Regions from separate parts of the Homo sapiens genome. Here region 2 is linked to region 1. The links come from fine-mapping of genetic effects on plasma protein levels. A gene starts in region 1. The other region holds a variant in brackets. All regions are shown on one strand. Distances are between the middles of the regions. Region 1 holds the start of PTH1R (parathyroid hormone 1 receptor). Region 2 overlaps SLC25A20 (solute carrier family 25 member 20).

What was found. A credible set is the group of variants that fine-mapping cannot tell apart. PIP is the posterior inclusion probability: the model's chance that the variant is causal. The UK Biobank Pharma Proteomics Project read protein levels with antibody pairs (Olink). The fine-mapping took linkage between variants from a reference panel, not from the people measured, so its PIPs are less certain.
Region 2: its variant is the best candidate, but not a certain one, in a credible set for the plasma level of the PTH1R protein (UK Biobank, PIP 0.86).

What each region holds. Positions count from the first base shown.
Region 1 is chr3:46,875,733-46,881,100 of GRCh38, forward strand. It overlaps PTH1R (parathyroid hormone 1 receptor), which reads left to right and starts at 1,989. Exons shown (of 16, transcript NM_000316.3): 1 at 1,989-2,111; 2 at 5,330-5,368. It also overlaps a transcript of MYL3 not described here.
Region 2 is chr3:48,878,556-48,883,923 of GRCh38, forward strand. SLC25A20 (solute carrier family 25 member 20) reads right to left here. Exons shown (of 9, transcript NM_000387.6): 4 at 803-893. Among named protein-coding and RNA genes, the nearest start is that of SLC25A20, 18 kb to the right of the region's middle. The variant G/A (reference allele first, on the strand shown) is at 3,068.

The sequences.
Region 1 (5,368 bases):
CCCACCTGCTGCCCACAGCTCCCAGCAGGTCTGGGGGCGGCATCCAGCCTTGGCATCCAGGCGTTCTGAACCTCAGGGAGCCCCAAAGGGTTTATGGGTCTCCCAATGAATGGGAGCCTGTTGAGCTCGGAGGGGGCCGGGCCCGAGTAAACATGGCTGGGTCTGAGCTGCCATTCTCCCCCTACCTCTTCCCCAGAACCCAGGACCAAAATACAACTTCCTGTCCCCGGAGCTGAGGGCCAGACTTGCCCCCCAGAGCCCTGGGCTGGGGCCCACAGGAGGAACGCAAACTGGCAGGCCCAAGGCTCGAGGAGAGAAAGGCCTTCAGGTTTTCAGACTCCCAGGTCTGCTTGCATCCAAGACCCAAGTGCCTGGGCACTTTACAGATCCCCTTTGAGCCTGAAACTGCCCAACTGTTAACAACAGATCAGGAAACTGAGGCCATGAGCAGGAAGGCGTCTGGCTCAGGGATCCACAGGTCAAAGCAGAAAAGGCCCCAGCCTCCTGCTTCCCTGGCCAGTGAGGATGGGGCCTGTGGGCAGGGTAGGGCAGTGCATGTGGACTCAGGGGAGGTAGAGGCTCTGGCAGTCAAGAGCCAGGGCAACAGGGAGGCTTGACAGAGCACAGGGGAACTCTCCCTCCTTTGGGCACAACTGCCCACTGACCTCCGCTGGCCTGGTCACAGAATAGCCTACGTGTCCCAGGATACCCCTTGGAGCAGTGCACTTCAGAGTAGCTGGGGCAGGAGTCCCATAAGTGCTGTTTGTCATAGTTTCACTATGTCCCCTGGCCAGTCCATTCTGCTCTTTGGTCCCGTTTCCTCCACCTGGAGGCCAGGTATCACCGAGCCTGCCTCCCTGACTAACTTGTGAAACAAAAAGTACTTTGGAAACTCTAATGAGTGGTACCCTCCCCAGGAGCCTGGAAGACCCAGGGAGGGGGGCCCTAGGAATGTGCCCAATGGCTGGGGGTGGTTGGGGCCAGCTGCCTCACATGCAGGGCACTGGGGGCTACAGCTGGAATGTGCTGAGTGGCAGCTGCCACGTGAATCATTATACCTCATCAGGCTGAGCCTAGGACTTCCAGACACAAACCAGCTCAGACTGGGCTCAGGCAGAAGGGCAGCCTCCAGCCGGGTCACAGGGCCTGGGGGTGAGGTTTCTGGGATCTTGCAGGGTCTCTGCCTCCCTGTCTGCCCACATCTTCATCCTGAGCAACCAGCCCTGGTTCTGAACACAGCTCGTTCTACAGACCCACAGAGAGAAGTCATCCTGTCCACAGCCCCCTGCCTTTGAGACCTGTGACAGCTTAAGCAGACCCTGGGCCTGGAAGGGCCTGGGAGGCAGATAGGGAGGGCTTCCTGGCTGACTCCTCACCAGGAGCCCACATTCCAGTGGGCAAGGAGTCAGATATGAGGTGGCTGTGGGGCTGTAGGGGTCAGGACACGGGCTGGAGTGGAATGACGGCCCCCTCCATCTCTTCCGTCTAGGAGCCACTGGGTACCCAGTGCTGGCAGATCAGGCTTTCTTGGGCCTCAGTTTTCCTGCCTGTGACACAGGCAAGAACCACCTCCAGCCCCCCTCTGATTTCTCTGGGTGCCTTAAACTTGAGTGAAGTCACTAGTAGGGGCTGTGTTCATACCTCGTGGCAGCCTGATATTCCTGAGATGTGGAAAGGACCAGAGGGTTAGACAGGGACACAGAGACTAAGAGAGAGGCATGGCAGGGCAAGGAGAGGACTATTGAGGCACACACACGTGTCTGGCAGCCTGAGTGGGCCCAGTTACCTGGCAGGCAGACCCATGGGTGCTGAGGGGAGGGCCCAGCCCTGGGCATCTGAACACCGGCACACTTGGATCTGCCTCTGTTGCCTCCTACTCCTGACTAGGAGCCTGGGACAAAGTCCTGGGCCAGTGTAGGGCTTGGTAAAAAATAATTAATTTTCTTTTCAAGTGGAAGCTCTGACTCAGGTCTTTTCTTGTCCCCAGCAGCACTATCCTTGCTTAGGCCTGAGCCACAGAAGCTGCTCAGGGACTATCCATGGCCTCCCCGTGGCCAACTTGAGTCTGCTCTGCAGCTTTAGGCCCGACTTGGAAGGCCCATGGGCTGCAGGTGAGTGGGGGCCAGGGGAGCCTAGGGGCCTGAGCACAGCTGGGAAGCCCAAGTCTGTGGTTTCCCTGGGGGTGAGTGTCTAAATACCTGGGCCGTGCTATGGGGCAGACAAGACATGCCCGCATGGAGACACATCTGTGGACCTGGTGTTATGACAGCAGGGGGCTTGTAACCATGAGGCCAGCAGGGACAGAAAGCCCATACCTCTAGCTCCTTGGGAGCCTTAGGAGTGCTCCCTGGTTGGGACAGAGCCTGCTGGCCCCAGGTGCCCCCATCGCCCCTCCCTTCACCTTCCTGAGAGGCAAGAAAGCCAGGCAGCCATGCTTCTGCTGCAAGGGAAGGGGGCTACCCAGCCAGCTGCCATGGGAGCCTCCAGCGACTCAGCTGGGTGTCAGGGGGTGTTTATGAGCAGCCGAAATGGCTGTAAAAGTGGCACCTCGCTTCACTTATGGCCTAGCCATCCCCTCCCCTACTGGGCTCTTGCCTCAAAAAGTTTCCAGAGGGGCCTAGAAGCCGAGAGAGGTCTGGGGTTGAGGGCTGGGTGGAGGCACAACCTGGGGTCAGAGTTCAGCCAGGGGCTAGAAATCAGACTGGGATAAGAACTCAGCCTGAGGCTGGGGCTCATGATGGAGATAGAGCTCAGTCTGGGATCAGGGCTAAGCTTGGATGCAGCCTGACTTTGGGGCTAGTGTTGGGATGAAGCACTGGGGAAATATAAGGACTCAGAAATAGATGTGAGCCATTAGTCCCAGAGAACCCCTGGTCTGGCCAAGGGGTTTTCTGAGGGAGGAAGGCCAGGCTGCATTGCTCAGACAGCTGAGCCTCTTGCCTTGCTTGTTGGTGTCTGATGCCCACCCTGGCCCCAGGGTCTGTGTACCTTGGCCAGAGCCCTACTCACGGTGGGATGGCTGCAGCAGAGGCCTGTCAGCCTGGGGCTGCCACACCAGCAGGGGTGGGGCCAGAGTCTGGCCCCTACTGCAGTTCTGAGATCCAGTGACCACCCTGGCTCCTCCTCCTAGGCCCCAGCCTGGGGATTAGAGACAGGGACTCACTCCTACTCCCCACCCCCAGCCAGGCCTTTTCAAACCCCATTGAAACTAACACTGACCTGACACTAACCAGAAACTGACTCTGAGCCCCTGGGGCGTGCTTGTCAAAAAGGGCAAGCTGACTCTGCCAGGTGCTTGGGTGCTACCAGTTAATGTGTGACACCCCCACCCTCATGGTAGCACTTTAACCAGAGGCCCGAGGGTGAGAGAGATGATCTGTGGCCCCACCCACAGCTGTGGAATGTCCAGCAGGGGACTCTGGGGTGAGGCACATGAGTTATGGCAGGAGGAATGCCCTTAAGGGACCCAGCACCCATCAGATTCCTCTCTGCAGCCCTCTCCACAGCCCACCCTCATCCTCCCAAGTACAAGTAGTATGTTTCCAAATCTCAAGTTTTCCCTGGTGTCAGATCTGAAAAGAACTCCTCCCCTCAGCCTCTAGTTTTATCTCTCAGTCCTTCCAATCCCTCCATTAATGTTCTTTTCTCATCACCAAGGGGGAAAGCAGGGTGGAAGATCAGTGGTCACAGAACCATAAAACTTAGAGACACTTAGAAACAGAGGCATAGGCCAGGTGCGGTGGTTCATGCCTGTAATCCCAGCACTTTGGGAGGCCGAGGCAGGAGGACTGCTTGAGCCCAAGAGTTGGAGACCAGTCTAGGCAACAAAGTGAGACCTCGTCTCTACAAAAAAAAAATTTTTTAATTACCCAGGTGTGGTAGCTCATGCCTGTGGTGCCAGCTACATGAGAGGCTGAGGTGAGAGGATTGCTTGAGCCCAGGAGGTCAAGGCTGCTGTGAGCCATGACCGTGCCACTGCACTCCAGCCTGGGTGACACAGCAAGACCCTGTCTGGGGAAAAAAAAAATGCTGCGTGTGGTGGCTCACGCTTGTAATCTCAACACTTTGGGAGGCCGAGACAGGATCACTTGAGGCCAGGAGTTTGAAACCAGCCTGGCCAACATGGAGAAACCCCATCTCCACTACAAATGCAAAAATTAGCCAGGCGTGGTGGTGCACAACTATAATGCCAGCTACTCAGGAGGCTGAGGCCAGAGAATTGCTTGAACCCGGGAGGTGGAGGTTGCAGTCAGCCGAGATCGCACCACTGCACTCCAGCCTGGCCAACAGCCCTGTCTCAAAAAAGAAAAGAAACAGAGGCATAATAAAGCTGAGACCATTAAAATATAACACTGAAGAACCACAAGTGTTCTTTAGGTGCCCATTCTGGCACCTGGGCCTCCGTCCCAAGGAGGCTACATACCATAGGAGGCAGCCCTGAAATCACAACCTCCCTCCCCAGTAACGGAGGATGTGGGCACACAAGGAGGGAGGGGAGTGTCCTTTACACCAGGCAGAAGAGTATGATCCTGGCAGAGGAAGCAGCAAGGACAAAGGCAGGAGAGTGGATGTGTGAAGAAGACCAGGAGTCTAGCAGACAGTTCCTGTTAGGGAGAGTCATTTTTGGAGGAAACTGTCTCAAATAGCACAGCCCTTGAACACCAGAAAAAGAAATGAGGGCAGTGGGCACAGAGAAGGGAGGCAGCCATAGAAATGCATGGGGAGGGCCAAGGCTGGTGGTTCATACCTGTAATCCCAGCACTTTGGGAGGCTGAGGCAGGTGGATCACTTGAGGTCAGGGGTTCGTGACCAGCCTGGTCAACATGGTGAAACCCCGTCTCTACCAAGAAATGCAAAAATTAGCCAGGTTGGTGGTACACACCTGTAGTCCCAGCTACTTGGGAGAATCACTTGAGCCTGGGAAGCGGAGGTTGCAGTGAGCAGAGATCATGCCACTGGACTCCAGCCTGGGTGACAAAGTGAGACTTTGTCTTGAAGAAGAAGAAGAAGGAGAAGGAGAAGAAAGAAGAAGAAAGTAGCAGCAGAAGAAATACATGGGGAATGCACCTGGGAGTGCAGTCTGGAAGCTGGATGGGCTTGAGCCAGCAGAAGGGTGGCTGCAGCTGGATCCTAGGCCTTAGGACTTGGGCTTGACAGATTTGCACTGAGGGTTGGAGGGCAGGTTTGCAGGCTCCGAGGAGCTCAATATCCACAGGCTGAGTCTTGAGAGCCCCTGGAGCCCATGGGCCAGGATGCCCACCCTCGTGGAAACTAAACAGTAAAGTTAACATTGCCCTTGAATCAGCTGGCCAACCTCTCCATTTTGCAGATGAGGAAACTGAGGTCCAGACAGCCGAAGAGTGGTAGT
Region 2 (5,368 bases), 2.0 Mb after region 1:
TTCAGAGGCCGAGGCAGGTGGATCACTGGAGGTCAGGAGTTCAAGACCAGCCTGACCAACATGGCAAAGCCCTGTCTCTACTAAAAATATAAAAATTAGCCTGGCATGGTGGCAGGCGCCTGCAATCTCGTCTACTCAGGAGGCTGAGGCAGGAGAATCACTTGAATCCGGGAGGTGGAGGTTGCAGTTAGCCAAGATCGTGCCACTGCACTCCAGCCTGCGAAACACAGCAAGACCCCATCTCAAAAAAAAAAAAAAAAAAATTTGTAGAGATGGGATCCCACTATGTTGCCCAGGCTGGTTTTTGGTTTTGTTTTGTTTTGGTTTTGTTTTTTTGAGACAGAGTCTTGCTCTCATGCCCAGGCTGCAGTGCAGTGGCGTGACACAGCTCACTGCAACCTGTCTCCCGGGTTCAAGTGATTCTCCTGCCTCAGCCTCCCAAGTAGCTGGGATTACAGGTGCCCACCACTATACCTGGCTAATTTTTGTATTTTTAGTAGAGACGGGGTTTCACCATGTTGGCCAGGCTGGTCTCAAACTCCTGACCTCAAGTGATCCATCCTCCTCGGCTCCCAAAGTGCTGGGATTACAGGCGTAAACCACTGCACCTGGCCCCCAGGCTGGTCTTTAACTCATGGGCTCAGGCAATCCTCACACCTTGGTCTCCCAAAGTGCTAGGATTACAGGTGTGAGCCACTGCACCCAGTCCTGAAGCCTTTATTAAGGGTGAAAGGACATAAACATGCACACGAAATTATAAACTGAAAGGAAAAAGCTATTTCCCCTCCAATCACAACCTTACCTGTAATAAGCACTTGATCCGTTCTCCAGGAGTCATGATTCCTGTGGTGAATACGCCAGATAACATCCCAGCTGCAAAAAGCTGGGGATAGCTGCATTGAAAACAAAAAGCAGAAGCAAGCACCTGTGACTAACCACCGAGGACAGAGGCCAATCCCAGCAAAGAGGACAGTTTTGTAAGAAAAAAAATAAGTACTTGGACTGGGTAGAAGCCTAGCCACAAATGAATCAGATTTCGCACAAAAACTCAGTTCTAGGTATATTTTAATGTCAAATTTCCCAGAGCAAGGGTCTCAGTGGCAAGAGCAATGGGAGTCTGGCCACAAGGCCCACCCCATGTGGTACACGCTCAGAATCCCTCACCTGTAAGAGAAGTTTTATATAGTAAAACATGGCTTCCATCCATGCGCCTGCCAGGCACAGTGACTATGGACAAGTTTCCAGGCCTCTCTGAGCCTCAATTCTCCCTAGTTAACATGCTGGGGTTTTTGTGGGGGAAGTCTCTAACCCAGGATCTGGACTTTAATCTCCCCCAGTAGTTCCCCTCCAGTCTCACTTCCCCTGGATTACCAAGGGCCTGAGAACACTCTAAGCCAAGATTCAAGCAGGACAGCTTCAAGGCCAAGGAGGATGGCTGTGGCCACCTCTAAAGGCTAAGGGATAGCCAAGGCAACTGCATGCAACGTGCTGTAAGACGCTGAGAAAGGACCAGACAGGGATGATACCCAGGCAGGCATGACAGGTCCTGTGGACCCTGTACAGGGAAATAGTCCCCCAGTGTCAAGAGGTATGGGTCTTCACTCTGGCCCCCACAGAATGAACAACCCTGAGTATAAAGAGCAGTCTGAGGCTCCTACCATCTATCACCCACAGCTGTCTGTGCCACCTCTGGCATCTCCCTTTCTTTTCTTTTCTTTCGTCTTTTTGTTTGTTTGTGTTTGTTTTGAGACACGGTCTCACTCTGTCCCCAGGCTGGAGTGCAGTGAAGCGATCTCGGTGCAACCTCCACCTCCTGGGTTCAAATGATTCTCCTGCCTCAGCTCCCGAGTAGCTGGGATTACAGGAACCTGCCACCACACCCAGCTAATTTTTGTATTTTTAGTAGAGACGGAGTTTCACTATGTTAGCTAAGATGGTCTCGAACTCCTGACCTCAAGTGATCCACCCACTTCGGCCTCCCAGAGTGCTAGGGTTACAGCATGAGCCACTGTGCCCGGCTTTTTTTTTTTTTTTTTTTTTTGAAACAGGGTCTTGCTCTGTTGCCCAGGCTGGAGTGCAGTGGTGCAATCTCAGCTCACTGCAACCTCCATCTCCTGGGCTCAAGTGACCTTCCCACCTCAACCTCCTGAGTAGCTGGGACTACAGGCAAGCCGGGCTAATTTTTGCATTTTTGTAGAGACAGAGTTTCGCCATGTTGCCCAGGTTGGTCTCAAACTCCTGGGCTCAAGTGATCCTCCTGCCTTGGCCTCCCAAAGTGCTGGAATTACAGGTGTGAGCCACTGTGCCTGGCTACCTCCTTTTCTTTCTGGGATTAGCAATACCAGCACGGTTTGGAGGCAATGGGGCACAAAGTTACATTTAGCATTTCAACAGAGTTCCACAACTTAGCAAATGTTACTGAAAAACTTCACCTACTGTCCTAAGCTTCGGTGCACTCTTGACCCCAAGCCTCCAACAACTGAGCCTTCAGGTCAGTCCCATCCAACAAGGAGCTTATGAACAGATGCCAAATGGGGCTAGAGGGACATCCACTGTAAAGAGTTCACTCCAGGCAGGGCACCAGTTTCAACAGCGCGATTTCTCCCTGCATTCACCCCAGGCAGGGCTCATGCATCTACCTCAGGCACACAGCCAAGCTGACTGTCAAACAGTCAAGAGACTTGCTTTCCAACACGGCCATCTTCACAGTCCCAGTTCACATGGCTATCCCTGAGGAGTCCTCTCAGCAACTAAATTCTCCCTATGAGACCAACATGTTCCATTTTCCCCATAATGCCCAACCCTAGGCTCAGCAAACCTCATCTCTTGGGACTGGAGACTGTCTCTGAATAGGATCTCTGTGTGTGCACAGGGTGTCATGTGGACACTCAATGGCTGCCTGGCCTATTCTCCCACTCCCCACCCCCATCTCCATCCCAGGGAGGCATCTTTGAGAGCTAGACTCTCCTGGACTTCCACCCCAAGGCCCTGGTAACACTCCTTTCCATATCACCCCCAAACACCATTCCAGGGAGGTGAACACAGCAGGGCTGACAGGATTGTGGGA[G/A]TGGGGTCCTGAGTGTCTTAACTTTGTTCAGTCAGGAAGACTGTTTTTCTGAGTGCTGATGTGACTGTACAGGAACACAGCCCATAGTCCAAAGTACCAGAAGTGACCCCACGGGGGTCATGCATGGCCCTGATACATCCGTGAGCTGGCACACATGCTAAAAGACCAGGCGCTCAAAGAGGGCATGTGTCTGTGGGACACAAGGACTATCAATGGGCAAATGCAGCTCCAAAACAACCCCATCCACATTTCAGGACACTTGCAGCTATTTATAGAATCTAGGGACATTCAGAGAGTCATAAGGATCCCAGAAATAGAGTTTCACTCTACAAGCACCTCCATCTACATCCTAGACCCTCACTCAGCCTGCTGTGGCCTGAAGTGGTGACAGAATACAACCGCATGGCGCCCTGGGCTTCCTCCCTTGAGCTCCTGGATCTGAGGGCAGGCCAGCCTCTGTGGCTCCTGTACTGCCTATAGCCCCTCCCAGGGGCTGGCATCCTGCACAGCTCAGATTGTGGATACCTTTTCACCCAATATTTCCACTCAGAATTTCCCTGCCTCCTGAGAAGCCTCTGTTTTCATTAACTACTTTGTAAATTCTGAACTATAATTCTGTCTCAGGTGACTCTTCATACCCAAATCCAACTTCTTAAAGTTTATTAAAGGAAAACACATTAACTTATTCCACTTTAACAGAGAAACTAATACCTGAAATCTTTATAGTCATATTAGCATGCTGTAAAAATGAAGCACAACAAAAGTTGGAACCTTCTCTTCTCTCAATCAGGTGATAGAAAGCAAGGCTGTTCTTGTCTTTAGGGCAGCACCAGGTGCTGCCTATGACATGTCACATATATTTAAGCATTCAGACCTCTCAACAGCCTCCTGGGGTTGGTATTACAAATCTCTCCAGTAATTGATACTACCTTATAAAAGAAATACGAAAAACTGGTCAGGTGTGGTGGCTTACACCTGTAATCCTAGCACTGTGGGAGGCCAAGGCAAGAGAATTGCTTGGCTCCAGGAGTTCAAGACCAGCCTGGGCAAGATAATGAGAGCACCCCCCGCCGCCCCGACACACACACACCGACCATTGCTAAAAAAAATTTAAAAATTAGCCCAGAGTGATGGTGTGTGCCTGTAGTCCCAGCTACTTGGGGGGCTGAGGCAGAAGAATCACTTGAGCCCAGGAGTTCAAGGTTACAGTGAGTCGTGATTGCACCACTGCATTCCAGCCTGGGTGACAAAGAAAGACCCCATCTCAAAAACTCAAGTACTTGGGCTGGGCACAGTGGCTTATGCCTGTAATCCCAGCACTTTGGGGGGCCAAAGGGGGCGGATCACGAGGTCAGGAGATCGAGACCATCCTGGCTAACACGGCGAAACCCCGTCTCTACTAAAAATACAAAAAAAAAAAAAATTAGCCGGGCGTGGTGGCGGGTGCCTATAGTCCCAGCTAGTTGGAAGGCTGAGGCAGGAGAATGGTGTGAACCTGGGATGTGGAGCTTACAGTGAGCCGAGATTGCGCCACTGCACTCCAGCCTGGGCGACAGAGCAAGACTCAGTCTCGAACAAACAAAAAAAAATTTAAAATTAAAAAAATTAAAAACTCAAGTACTCCTTCATGTATAACTCCCAGGAGTTGGGCCAGGCACAGTGGCACACGCCTGAAATCCCAGCACTTTGGGAGGCCGAGGCGGGTGGATCACCTGGGGTCAGGAGATCGTGACCAGCCTAATGTGGTGAAACCCCCTCTCTACTAAACACACAAAAAAATTAGCCAGGTGTGGTGGTGCATGCCTGTAATCCGAGCTACTTGGGAGGCTAAGACAGGAGAATTGCTTGTACCTGGGAGGCGGAGGTTGCAGTGAGCCGAGATTGTGCCATTGCACTCCAGCCTGGGCAAAAAGAGCAAAACTCTGTCTCAAAAAAGAAAGAAAAAAAAAACTCCCAGGAGTCAGGCCTAGGGGCCCAGGAAGACCCACCAAGGTCCTTTTTTTTTTTTTTTTTTTTGAGATGGAGTCTTGCTCCGTTGCTCAGGTTGGAGTGCAGTGGTGCCATCTCGGCTCACTGCAACCTCTTGCCTCCCAAGTTCAAGCGATTCTCCTGCCTCGGCCTTCCAAGTAGCTGGGACTACAGGCGCCTGCCACAACACCCAGCTAATTTTTTTGTATTTTTAGTAGAGACAGGGTTTTGCCATGTTGGCCAAGCTGGACTCGACCTCCTGACCTCAGGTGATCCACCCGCCTCAGTCTCCCAAAGTGCTAGGATTACAGGTATGAGCCACCGCGCCCTGCC